3 linked regions of the Homo sapiens genome follow. The protein of the gene in region 2 purifies or fractionates together with the protein of the main gene of each other region. This does not show direct contact. Each region holds a gene or a part of one and is shown on either strand. Other genes may lie near its edges. The genes, in order: ITLN2, PROS1 and TMPRSS13.

Evidence for each region.
Region 1: the proteins of PROS1 (region 2) and ITLN2 purify together in Homo sapiens (co-immunoprecipitation; one large-scale study listed by IntAct). This does not show direct contact.
Region 3: the proteins of PROS1 (region 2) and TMPRSS13 purify together in Homo sapiens (co-immunoprecipitation; one large-scale study listed by IntAct). This does not show direct contact.

Annotation. Positions count from the first base shown.
Region 1 is NC_000001.11:160,948,234-160,951,885, reverse strand, and holds part of ITLN2 (intelectin-2 precursor), read left to right. Parts: intron 1-595; coding exon 596-843; intron 844-1,174; coding exon 1,175-1,333; intron 1,334-1,719; coding exon 1,720-1,840; intron 1,841-1,963; exon of another isoform or gene 1,964-3,235; intron 3,236-3,652.
Region 2 is NC_000003.12:93,879,757-93,883,408, forward strand, and holds part of PROS1 (vitamin K-dependent protein S isoform 2 preproprotein), read right to left. Parts: intron 1-3,652. UniProt on the Homo sapiens protein: Anticoagulant plasma protein; it is a cofactor to activated protein C in the degradation of coagulation factors Va and VIIIa. It helps to prevent coagulation and stimulating fibrinolysis.
Region 3 is NC_000011.10:117,919,277-117,922,928, reverse strand, and holds part of TMPRSS13 (transmembrane protease serine 13), read left to right. Parts: intron 1-3,652. UniProt on the Homo sapiens protein: Serine protease. Cleaves the proform of PRSS8/prostasin to form the active protein. Cleaves the proform of HGF to form the active protein which promotes MAPK signaling.

The sequences.
Region 1 (3,652 bases), on a different chromosome or scaffold from region 2:
GAAAGATGGGAAGGGGGGTGAGAAGTGACCTTGTTGCAGCTCCTCACAAGGTTCCCATCTTTCCATGTTTGGGGAAGACCACAGGCTTTCTGCCAAGACTTAGGTCAGCTGTCCCTATGTGGCCTATGCGCAAATGTGCAAGGTCACCAGGATGCCACCGTGGAGCCAGTCTCCTGCAAGCTTGTGAACAGGAGGGGAACTCTGAGCTTAGGGAAGCTGAATCTTATGAAGTGGGCACAACCTTTGCTCTGAGCTGCACAGAGGCCCTATCCTGCTGTAGAATCAGATGTGGCGTGTGCTGATTTCTGGCCTCTCCTGGCCACAGGGTGGCACTGTCGAGAGGGAGATACCATCTCTGTCTCTTCTAAGACTATTTGCTCTACAAACTCTTTGAAAAGATAGTGTGAAGCCAAGACAGTCAGTGCCTCTGCTCATAGGTGAGCAGAACACAAGATGCATGGAGCATCGTCTTCCAGCAAGTATGTGTTGGAGTCTTCTGAGTGTGCTTTTGACTTCCTAGGGCTTTTCTATTCACGGAGCTGAGATGAACCCTGAGCTCTCAGACAGGGAGGCTCTGGGCTGGTTCTCTCTACAGATGGCCTGTATTTTCTCCGCACCAAGAATGGTGTTGTCTACCAGACCTTCTGTGACATGACTTCTGGGGGTGGCGGCTGGACCCTGGTGGCCAGCGTGCACGAGAATGACATGCGTGGGAAGTGCACGGTGGGTGATCGCTGGTCCAGTCAGCAGGGCAACAAAGCAGACTACCCAGAGGGGGATGGCAACTGGGCCAACTACAACACCTTTGGATCTGCAGAGGCGGCCACGAGCGATGACTACAAGGTTGGTGCCACTTCTCTCCTACTTGGGTGAGGGTGAGGTGTGGAGTGTGGCTGGCCACCAGCCTGCAGGAGGGAGGGCTGGAAGGTGGGGATATGGGGAAGGGCTGGAGAAGAAGAGAGAAATACAGGACTTGAATCACAACTTCCTCTCAACAAGGCTGTTAGGGCCCTGGGTGGTGGTGGGATCATCAGCTGGGAGTGGGGTGTCTGAGCGTGGCTGGCCATCTGCCTACTGATCCCAGAGCTCTCAGCCCAGCTGAGGCTGCACATGTGGACCTTCTGCCTCCTGGTACCTCCTGGCCCAGTCAGGCTCAGTGTCTGTTGCTTTCCAGAACCCTGGCTACTACGACATCCAGGCCAAGGACCTGGGCATCTGGCATGTGCCCAACAAGTCCCCCATGCAGCATTGGAGAAACAGCGCCCTGCTGAGGTACCGCACCAACACTGGCTTCCTCCAGAGACTGGGACATAATCTGTTTGGCATCTACCAGGTACACAGGGCTGCTGGCTGGGGGGCACTTTCTTTGGTGAACAGAGATCGAAGTGTCTAGGGTAGGGGGCAGATCTGTCCTGTGGTTCCACATCACTACTGAGTGGTTGGCTGTTTCTCCTTCCTTTGATTCACTGTGAACTCATGTCTGGCCTCTCAGAAACTCTAAGCCAGCAAGGAAGAGGCCTGTGGGACAGGAAAGCATGGGGAGAAAGAGACAGGGACAAGGGGTTTGGGGCTGTTGGGGAGACACAGCTATGGGGAAAAGCAGTCACTATTATGAGGATTGGTTTTGGGTAATGGCAGTTAATTTGAAACCCCTCCTCCCCCCACACTGTGGCAGCATCTCTACTGTCCTCACAAAACCTTTCTTCTGGGTCTCTGCAGAAATACCCAGTGAAATACAGATCAGGGAAATGTTGGAATGACAATGGCCCAGCCATACCTGTGGTCTATGACTTTGGTGATGCTAAGAAGACTGCATCTTATTACTCACCGTATGGTCAACGTGAGTGTTTGCTCCCTAAGTCCAGTCATAAATATTTTCTTGTACTCTTGGAGAATGGTGGCAAATAACAACAATTAATAATTGCTAGTATTTACTGAGCACTTAAAATGCACCAGACTCTTGTCTTGGAACTTAACATGATTTTGTGTCATTTAATTACCATGAGAAAACTATGAAGTTAGAATTGCTGTTATCCCCATTTCACAGCACGTAATCCCAGGTTTCTTCATCACCACCTTGTATACTCTTATAATTGTGGGGAAAAGAAAAAGAGATCAGACTGTTACTGTGTCTATGTAGAAAGAAGTAGACATAAGAGACTCCATTTTGGTCTGTGCTGAGAAAAATTCTTCTGCCTTGAGATGCTGTTAATCTGTAACCCTACCCCCAACCCTGTGCTCACAGAGACATGTGCTGTGTTGACTCACGGTTTAATGGATTTAGGGCTGTGCAGGATGTGCTTTGTTAAACAAGTGCTTGAAGGCAGCATGCTTGTTAAAGGTCATCACCACTCTCTAATCTCAAGTACCCAGGGACACAATACACTGCGGAAGGCCGCAGGGACCTCTGTCTAGGAAAGCCAGGTATTGTCCAAGGTTTCTCCCCATGTGATAGCCTGAGATATGGCCTCGTGGGAAGGGAAAGACCTGACTGTCCCCCAGCCCGACACCCACAAAGGGTCTGTGCTGAGGAGGATTAGTAAAAGAGGAAGGCCTCTTTGCAGTTGAGATAAGAGGAAGGCATCTGTCTTCTGCTTATCCCTGGGCAATGGAATGTTTTGGTGTAAAACCCGATTGTATGTTCTATTTACTGAGATAGGAGAAAACCACCTTAGGGCTGGAGGTGAGACATGCTGGCGGCAATACTGCTTTTTAATGCACCGAGATGTTTATGTATGTGCACGTCAAAAGCACAGCACCTTTTCTTAACCTTGTTTATGACACAGACATTTGTTCACATGTTTTCCTGCTGACCCTCTCCCCACTATTACCCTATTGTCCTGCCACGTCCCCCTCTCTGAGATGGTAGAGATAATGATCAATAAATACTGAGGGAACTCAGAGACTGGTGCTGGTGCGGGTCCTCCTTATGCTGAGCGCCAGTCCCCTGGGCCCACTTTTCTTTCTCTATACTTTGTCGCTGTGTCTCTTTCTTTTCTCAGTCTCTCGTTCCACCCAACGAGGAACACCCACAGGTGTGGAGGGGCAGGCCACCCCTTCAATAATAGTTAAGAAAAGGTGCATACAAAACATTAGCTGGGCATGATGGCGCATGCCTGTAATCCCAGCTCCTCGGGAGGCTGAGGCAGGAGAATCGCTTGAACCTGGGAGGCGGAGGTTGCGGTGAGCTGAGTTCACACCACTGCACTCCAGCCTGGGCAACAAGAGCGAAACCCTGTCAAAAAAAAAAAAAAAAAAGTGCACACTGAGGTTCACAGGAAAGAACCACTAGCAGAGTGGTGAGAGAGATTTACTTTTGTTATGAAGGATAACTTTAATTATCTTACAAAAGACAGTTTTCAGTATAATAAGAGCACAGAAGTTAAGTTGTGGATAAAAAAATCAAAGACATCACTGTTTGCCTTTGATATTTTGATGAAAGCAGGTGATGGTCAGGGAAACTAACCCATGGTAATTGGATGAGAAGTGTGTAAACAGCAATAGGCAGCCACATCTGATCATTGCTTATTCCTGCTGGGCCTTCTCAGATCTTTTTGGTAATCTTTTTGTAGAGTCTAGTTTCTCCTGTAAGCTGTAAGCAGACCTGGGTCCTTTTGTGAGTCCCAGCCTTTGTCCTCTTGCCCCCTATGAA
Region 2 (3,652 bases):
ACATAGGAGAGTTGGATAGTTCGATACTAGAGAAATACACTGACATCAGCAGTTAGTTTTGAAATCAGAATAGGAACCCTTGTTTTGTGAATCTCTTGTCATAATCCTTCACATTCTCTTTCTTAATTACTAGGTTAATTGTCTATCCCACTAACATGCAAGCTCTAGGAGGTATATATCTCTATCATTGCTTTGTTTTCCCCAGCACTCACTCAATAGATATTTGTTGAATTAATATGTTTCCAGAATAGTTGGATTACTAAAAATATTAGTTCATAATCTGAATGAAGTCTTCCTCATTTAATATGATGTAACATACAGCAAAGCCCAAATACCACACGGAGCCCTTGAAAGGGTAAATGTGAATAAGGAAAATCATTTTCCTTTGACAAGATGTTCTTCCACTTAGCCACATATAATGTCACTGTTTTTCATTATAATCCTGTAACTCCCATCCAGAAGAAAAAAAATATATAGACCGGGTACGGTGGCACATGCCTGTAATCCTAGCACTTTGGAATTGCCTGAGCTCAGGAGTTCGAGACCAGCCTGGGCAACATGGTGAAACATCTCTACTGAAAAAAAAATACAAAAAATTAGCCGAGCATGGTGGTGTATACCTGTAGTCCCAGCTACAACTCGGGAGGCTTGATTCAGGAGAATCGCTTGAACTCAGGAGGCAGAGGTTGCAGTGAGCTGAGATCACGCCACTGCACTCCAGCCTGGGAAAAAGAGTGAGACTCTGTCTCCAAAAAAAAAAGAATGTTTATATGTAATCATTGTGAAATAAGTAATTTTTAATTGATATATCATAATTGCACATATTTTGGGGTACATATGTCATTTGATAAATGCATACAATGTGTAATGCTCAAATCAGGGTAATTGGAATTTCTATCACCTAAACATTTATCTTGAAATAAGTAAATTTAACACAGAATATTAAACTCAAACTAAAATGAACACACGAATGTATAGAAGTTAAAATGTAACATTAAATATTAATTACAAAGTAGATCACTTACAAATTATCCATGAAATGATTAATTACTTATTAAAGTAATTTTTTTAGATACAATATAACTCTTATTTTCATTACCTTTTCAGGATTTTTTTCCTTTGGCCAAATCACCATGGATTTAGTTTTATCCTAATTTAATCCTCACCCCATTTATAACTTTAAAAAAATCTTTCATAGGCAGAACAGAACTAGGCATTGTATCAATTTGTGTTAGAAAAAGGGAAATCATTTTTGTAAAATTTGTCCTTAAAAATACAGTAAAAAAGGCTGGGCACAGTGGCTCATGCCTGTAACACCAGCACTGGGAGGCTGAGGCAGGAGTATCACTTGAGTTAAGGAATTTGAAAACTGACCTGGGCAACACGGGAAGACCCTGTCTCTGCAAAACATAAAAATTAGCAAGGCATGGTGGCATGTGGCTGTAGTCCTAGCTACTTGGGAGGCTGAGGCAGGAGGATTGCTTGAGCCCAGAAGGTCTAGGTTACAGTGAGCCATGATTGCACCACTGCACTCCAGCCTGGATGACAGAGAGAGACCCTGTCTCAAAAACAAACAAACAAATGTAGTAAATATAGACTACGAAAGATGGGAGGGTGGGAGGAGGGTAGGGGTTGAAAAATTACCAATTGGGTATCATGTTCACTATTTGGGTGATGTGTACACCAAAAGCCCAGATTTCACCACTACACAATATATCACAATATATGCATGTAAGAAATCTGCACTTGTACCTCCTAATTACATAAAAATTTAAAAATGTATTTTAATGTAGTAAGCACTTTTTTTTTTTTTTTTTTTGTGAGACATGCTCACACTCTGTCATCCAGGCTGGAGTGCAGTGATAAGATCCTGGCTCTCTGCTGTGTCAACATATTGGGCTCAAGCCATCCTCACACCTCAGCCTCCTGAGTAGCTGGGACTACAGGTGCATGCCATCAGGCTTGGCTAATTTTTGTATTTTTTGTGAAGATAGGGTTTCACCATGTTGCCAAGGCTGGTCTTGAACTCTTGGGCTCTAGCTCTTTGGGATCTGCCCGCCTCAGCCTCCTAAAGTGCTGGGATTATAAGTGTGAGCCACCTTACCTCGCCCTTTTTAGGTTACAAATAAACACAATTAAAATGTAATTTTTTTCTTAAAGCAGAGATATCACATTAGTGTTAACAATTTATAATGCAAAGTGTTAGTAGCTCAAATAATGAACTACTAAAAAAGAAAAAGACAAAGAATTCAATAAAATAATTAGAATTTATAAATAGCTAATAAACATATGGGAGGATATTCAAGTTCAGTAGAAATTAGAGAAATAATATTAATATTCAAACCTACAAAATTTAATTTTTGAACTATCAGATTGGAAAAAAACTAAAGCATACACTTTCTCATTCTGTTGGTAGAAATATTAATTGATAAAAGATTTTTGGAAAAGAATGTAATTGAACCTCTAATAATTATATATTTGCATAACCTTTGATAGAGATAACCTAATTCTAAAATTTTCTTCCATAGAATTAATCACATAAAGGTAGAAGGATGTATGATTTAGGATGTTCACAGAAGTATTACTTCTAAGGTTAAAAACCTAGGGTCAGTATGGCAAGATTCCCTGCTCCACTTAGGCTGTAGAAAAGTGGAAAGGGCACCACTCCCACCCTTACAACAACAAAAGCCAAATTATCTGCATAATCATGACTTTTCTTGAAACTATCAAAGAGCTGAGGTCGCAGAGCAACAAACTAACCAGAAACCTAAAGAAAGACAGGTGTTTCCAAGGAAAGCCAGAATGAGAACACTTTCTAATCCAGGGCAGACAGGAAATGCCATGCAATTTGGTAAAAATAATTTAGGTAAAGATTTAAACAAATTGCTGAACTCCATGTAGGGGCTGACGTAAGAGTTTAGAAGCCCTAGAAATTACAGACACAAAGACAATTCATGCTCATTCACAGGCTCTTCTCCACAGACCTTACCATGCACTCAAGAGAAAACAGAGTGCAGGGAAGGAGATCCGAAAAAGCCTCTCTCTTAATATGGTCCTGAAAGCAGCACCAGCTACAGGGAAGCCACAAAGCCCCATCTAGATCCTTCTCGGTCTCCTCTACACAACACAAGTTTTCAAGCCAGGAGAAAGGCAGCAAACCTTGTCATTAGGACACATATGAAGACTCATTGCAACTACAGATTAGGAAGAACAAACAAAAAAAGCTATCTATCATGCAGAAGGAGCAAGAAAACATATTGAGTCCTGATCACTAGACATCTCCCCTACTGATGAGAGTCAGGGAAGAGGAACAGTGAAAATTCCACACTCCTGAGACCCAGGGATACAACACCTGCCTAAGACTGAATTTGTACGACAACAACATAGAATGCTTCCCCAACCTCCGCATCTTCTCTGCCATGTTAGCAAATGTCAGGTAACAAGAGCACTCTGCTAGGGGTGGGCAAGACACTTGAGAGACACAAGTGGGAGAGACATTTTCTTGAGGCGTATTATGGAGGGAATACATAAAACTGAGCTGCTATGATGAAAAACTCTCTAGGCCAGGCACGGTGGCTCAAGCCTGTAATCCCAGCACTTAGAGAGGCTAAGGCAAGCAGATCACCTGAAGTCAGGAGTTTGAAACCAGCCT
Region 3 (3,652 bases), on a different chromosome or scaffold from region 2:
ATAGCCAGGTGGTAGCAGTGACAGCCTGGGGTGTGGGCCTGTTCCATGTCATGGTAAGGGCTTACAATTGTGTTACTGCAGGGGGTAACCTCAGAGACTACCCCACGGGTAGGTGGGGAGGAGAGGCATGGTCAGGAAAGAATGGTTGGCAAGGTTAGGCCAGGGATGTGGCTCAGAGTTGACCACACTCCCCTGCTCCACCCTGTGCACCTGCCCCTGAGCAGGCTGAGAAGCCTTTGGTCTGCAGGCAGGTTGTGGAGACACCAGGACACATCAAGGAGTTGGTCATTTCACTTCCACTTCTGAGTCTTCGGCTCACTGCCAAAGGCCAGGATTTGGGAAGCTTGGGTTCTGGTCCTGGTTCTGCCCCTTGTAGCTTGGGACCTTGGATAAGAAGTCTCGGCTGGGCGCGGTGGCTCACGCCTGTAATCCCAGCACTTTGGGAGGCTGAGGCGGGCGCAAGATCAAGAGATCGAGACCATCCTGGCCAACATGGTGAAACCCCATCTCTATTAAAAATACAAAAATTAGCTGGGCACAGTGGCGCGTGCCTGTAGTCCCAGGTACTCAGGAGGCTGAGGAAGGAGAATCACTTGAACCCGGGAGGTGGAGGTTGCAGTGAGCCGAGATCACGCCACTGTACTCCAGCCTGGCGACAGAGTGAGACTCTGTCTCAAAGCAAACAAACAACAAACAAACAAGTAGTCTCCTCCCCTTCCTATTCCCCAGCTGCTGAAGGCCTCTACTCTGAGGGTGAGATCAGGCCAGCGGTGGGAGGCTAGAGTCTCAGCAGTTGTTCTCCAAGAATTGGGGAAAAGAAATGAGTTAGTGCTATAACAGGTTAGGTATCCAGAAGAACTTCCAGCAGCGTGGGGCAGCAGGCCGTGAAGTGCCTAAAGAAGGTTGGTGTGGAATCTCTTACTCAGATGATCCCTGAAGATGAGAACTCTTCTTGATGTCTGGGAGGGTTTGGGTTGAGGGTCAGAGTCAGGGGGTGGAGCGGGGACCTCACTCTGGATGCTGCTCTCCTCTGGTCTGGGGGCTGCCCTTCCATCCTGATGTCCCTGTTGGGACTTGTAGTTCTCTTCATGGGCAGTTCTTCTTCAGGTCTTGAGGCTCCAGAACTCTCCTCTTGCCCTGGTCTTGGGGTCCAGCCACTTTCCACCTGCCTCCCAGGCTCTGACAGCAGAGCACTTGCTCTACCCAGACCAGAGCTAGATACCCCCAGACCCAGGGCCTGCAGAGACTCCATCCCACTTTCGGATGTGTCGCCCTTTCTGCAGTTCTTGGCTTTCCACCAATGCCCCCTCCCCACCAGTTCCCTGTCTGGTCTGACTCCCTTCTCCTGTTCCAGCTTTACAGCTTTCCCCAGCTCCCTCCCCCCACCTGCCCACCCATTTTCCTCTGGGCCTCTTCAAGATGGGGCAGCTGGGGCTGGATGGGAGGGTTCTGTTCAGGTAGAGACAGCCTGAGCTGCCTGGGAATGAGACGACTGTGCTAGAGTTCCTAAAGACCACCAGCTCATTCAGGGGGTGAGGTGGGCTGTTTCGTCTCTCTGAGCCCCGGGTCCTTGTGTACAAACTGGGGATAGTAATTCCTGCCCAGCTTGCTAACTGAGAGACTTGTGAGAATCAAATCACATAATGGTGCAAAACTGCACATACGAGCCCTGAAGAGACGAAGGTAGGTCCTGTGGATGTTTGTGACACTGTAGGTCAAGGCCCTCCTTGCTCCAAGCAGGCCTGGTTAGAATCTGAGCTGTCACTTACCTGGTGTGTGAATTTGGGCATGTTCTTAACCTGCCTGGACCTCTGTTTCAATATCTATAAAATGAGGCTAACCATACCAACTGCAAAGAGCTGTCAAGAGGTTGGAATGGGGTCCCGTAAAGTGCTCGTGGGCTGTTATCTTTGTCATGGTTTGACACACATTTATAGACCAGGCTCTTTCATGTGTATCACCCATTTATCTGGGGGAAGGAGGTAAGGTCTGCCCATTTTACACATGTGGAATCAGGCACTGAAGGGTTATGTCGCTTGCCCAGGAAACGCAGTTGGGAATGGAGGCAATCAGATTCAGATTTTTCCATAGCAAGCCCAGCATTCCCACAAACAAACAAACAAAACCCCACTATCGGCTGGGTGTGGTCTGGTGGCTCACGCCTGTAACCCCAGCACTTTGGGAGGCTGAGGCGGGTGGATCATTTGAGGTCAGGAGTTTGAGACCAGCCTGGCCAACATGGTGAAACTCCATCTCTACTAAAAATACAAAAATTAACCGGGTGTGGTGGCGGGTGCATATAATCCCAGCTTCTCGGGAGGCTGAGGCAGGAGAATCCCTTAAACCCAGCAGAGGTCGCAGTGAGCCAAGATCGCGGCACTGCACTCCAGCCTGGGCAACAGGGCAAGATTCCAATACAAAAATTAGCCAGGCACGGTGGTGCACACCTGTAGTCCCAGCTACATGGGAGGCTGAGGCAGGAGAATAGCTTGAACCTGGGAGGCGGAGGTTTCAGTGAGCCAAGATCATGCCACTGCACTGCAGCCTGGGGGACAGAGCAAGACTCAAAAAAACAAACGAGCAAACAAACAAACAAACAAAACCCCTCCATCACAGACACGGCTCACCACACCCTCACTGTGTATTGGGCGTTTTACAGGCATGATCTGTGACCTCAGTACCACGAAGCAAGGTGCTTCGCTCTAGCTTACAGATAGGAGACTGAGATGTAAAGAGGTGAAGTCACTTGCCTGGGGCGCCCAGCTGCCTTAGAGGCAGGCCAAATTCCAGCCTGGTCTCTCTAACCCAGAGCACCTGAAAACTCACCTGACCCCGATGCCCCAGGCCACCAGGCACCTCCTGGTCTTGGCAGGTCACAGGGCCCCACTATGGGTCACACTGGAAAGTATCACAAGACCAAGATCCCTGTGGTAACCCCCAGCCCTATCCCCAGGTTCCCAAGGTGTTCCTGGCCCTGCAGGGCCAGGGGGCCCCATTCTTAACCAATCTCACAAAGGCAAAATGAGCACTCTGTACACGTGGTTCACGAAGACTGTGCAGGAAGCTCTTCTGACTCAAGAAGGGCAGGTGACTCAGAGACAAATAGGCATGGGGTAGAACCCTGACTCTGTGATTCTGCAAGATGAGCTCTGAGCCTTGGCTTTCCTATCTGTAAAATGGCCTTCCAAAATACCAACCTCCCAGGGGTGTGGTGAGGCCCTTGTGAGGCCACAGATGTGAACGTTTATTATCAACTCTAAAGTGCCAGTACACACACGAGTGATTAGTATTTTATTGTCCCGGCTTATGGGAATTCCCCCTGAAGTTGGGGAAGACTTAGAGTGTGCACAAAAGAGGAAGGAGATCAGGCAGGCTGGTGAAGGTGCCACAGTGCCAGGATCCCTGGCAGGAGCCGAGGCCCAGGCCACCCCAGGAGGGAAGGGCAGGGCCTTCTGCAGCTGGGGCTTGTCCATGTTATGGAAAGACCTTAGTCTGGCCTTTGTCCAGCATTCTTTTTCTCCTCAGATGAGCTCACAATGGCACTCAGCCCCTTCAGTTGGCAGGTCAGGGCTTTTCTTAACTAGTGCTTAACTAGCGATTACAGCTCATAGTAAGAACAATATTTTATAATCTAACACACATACATGAAAGA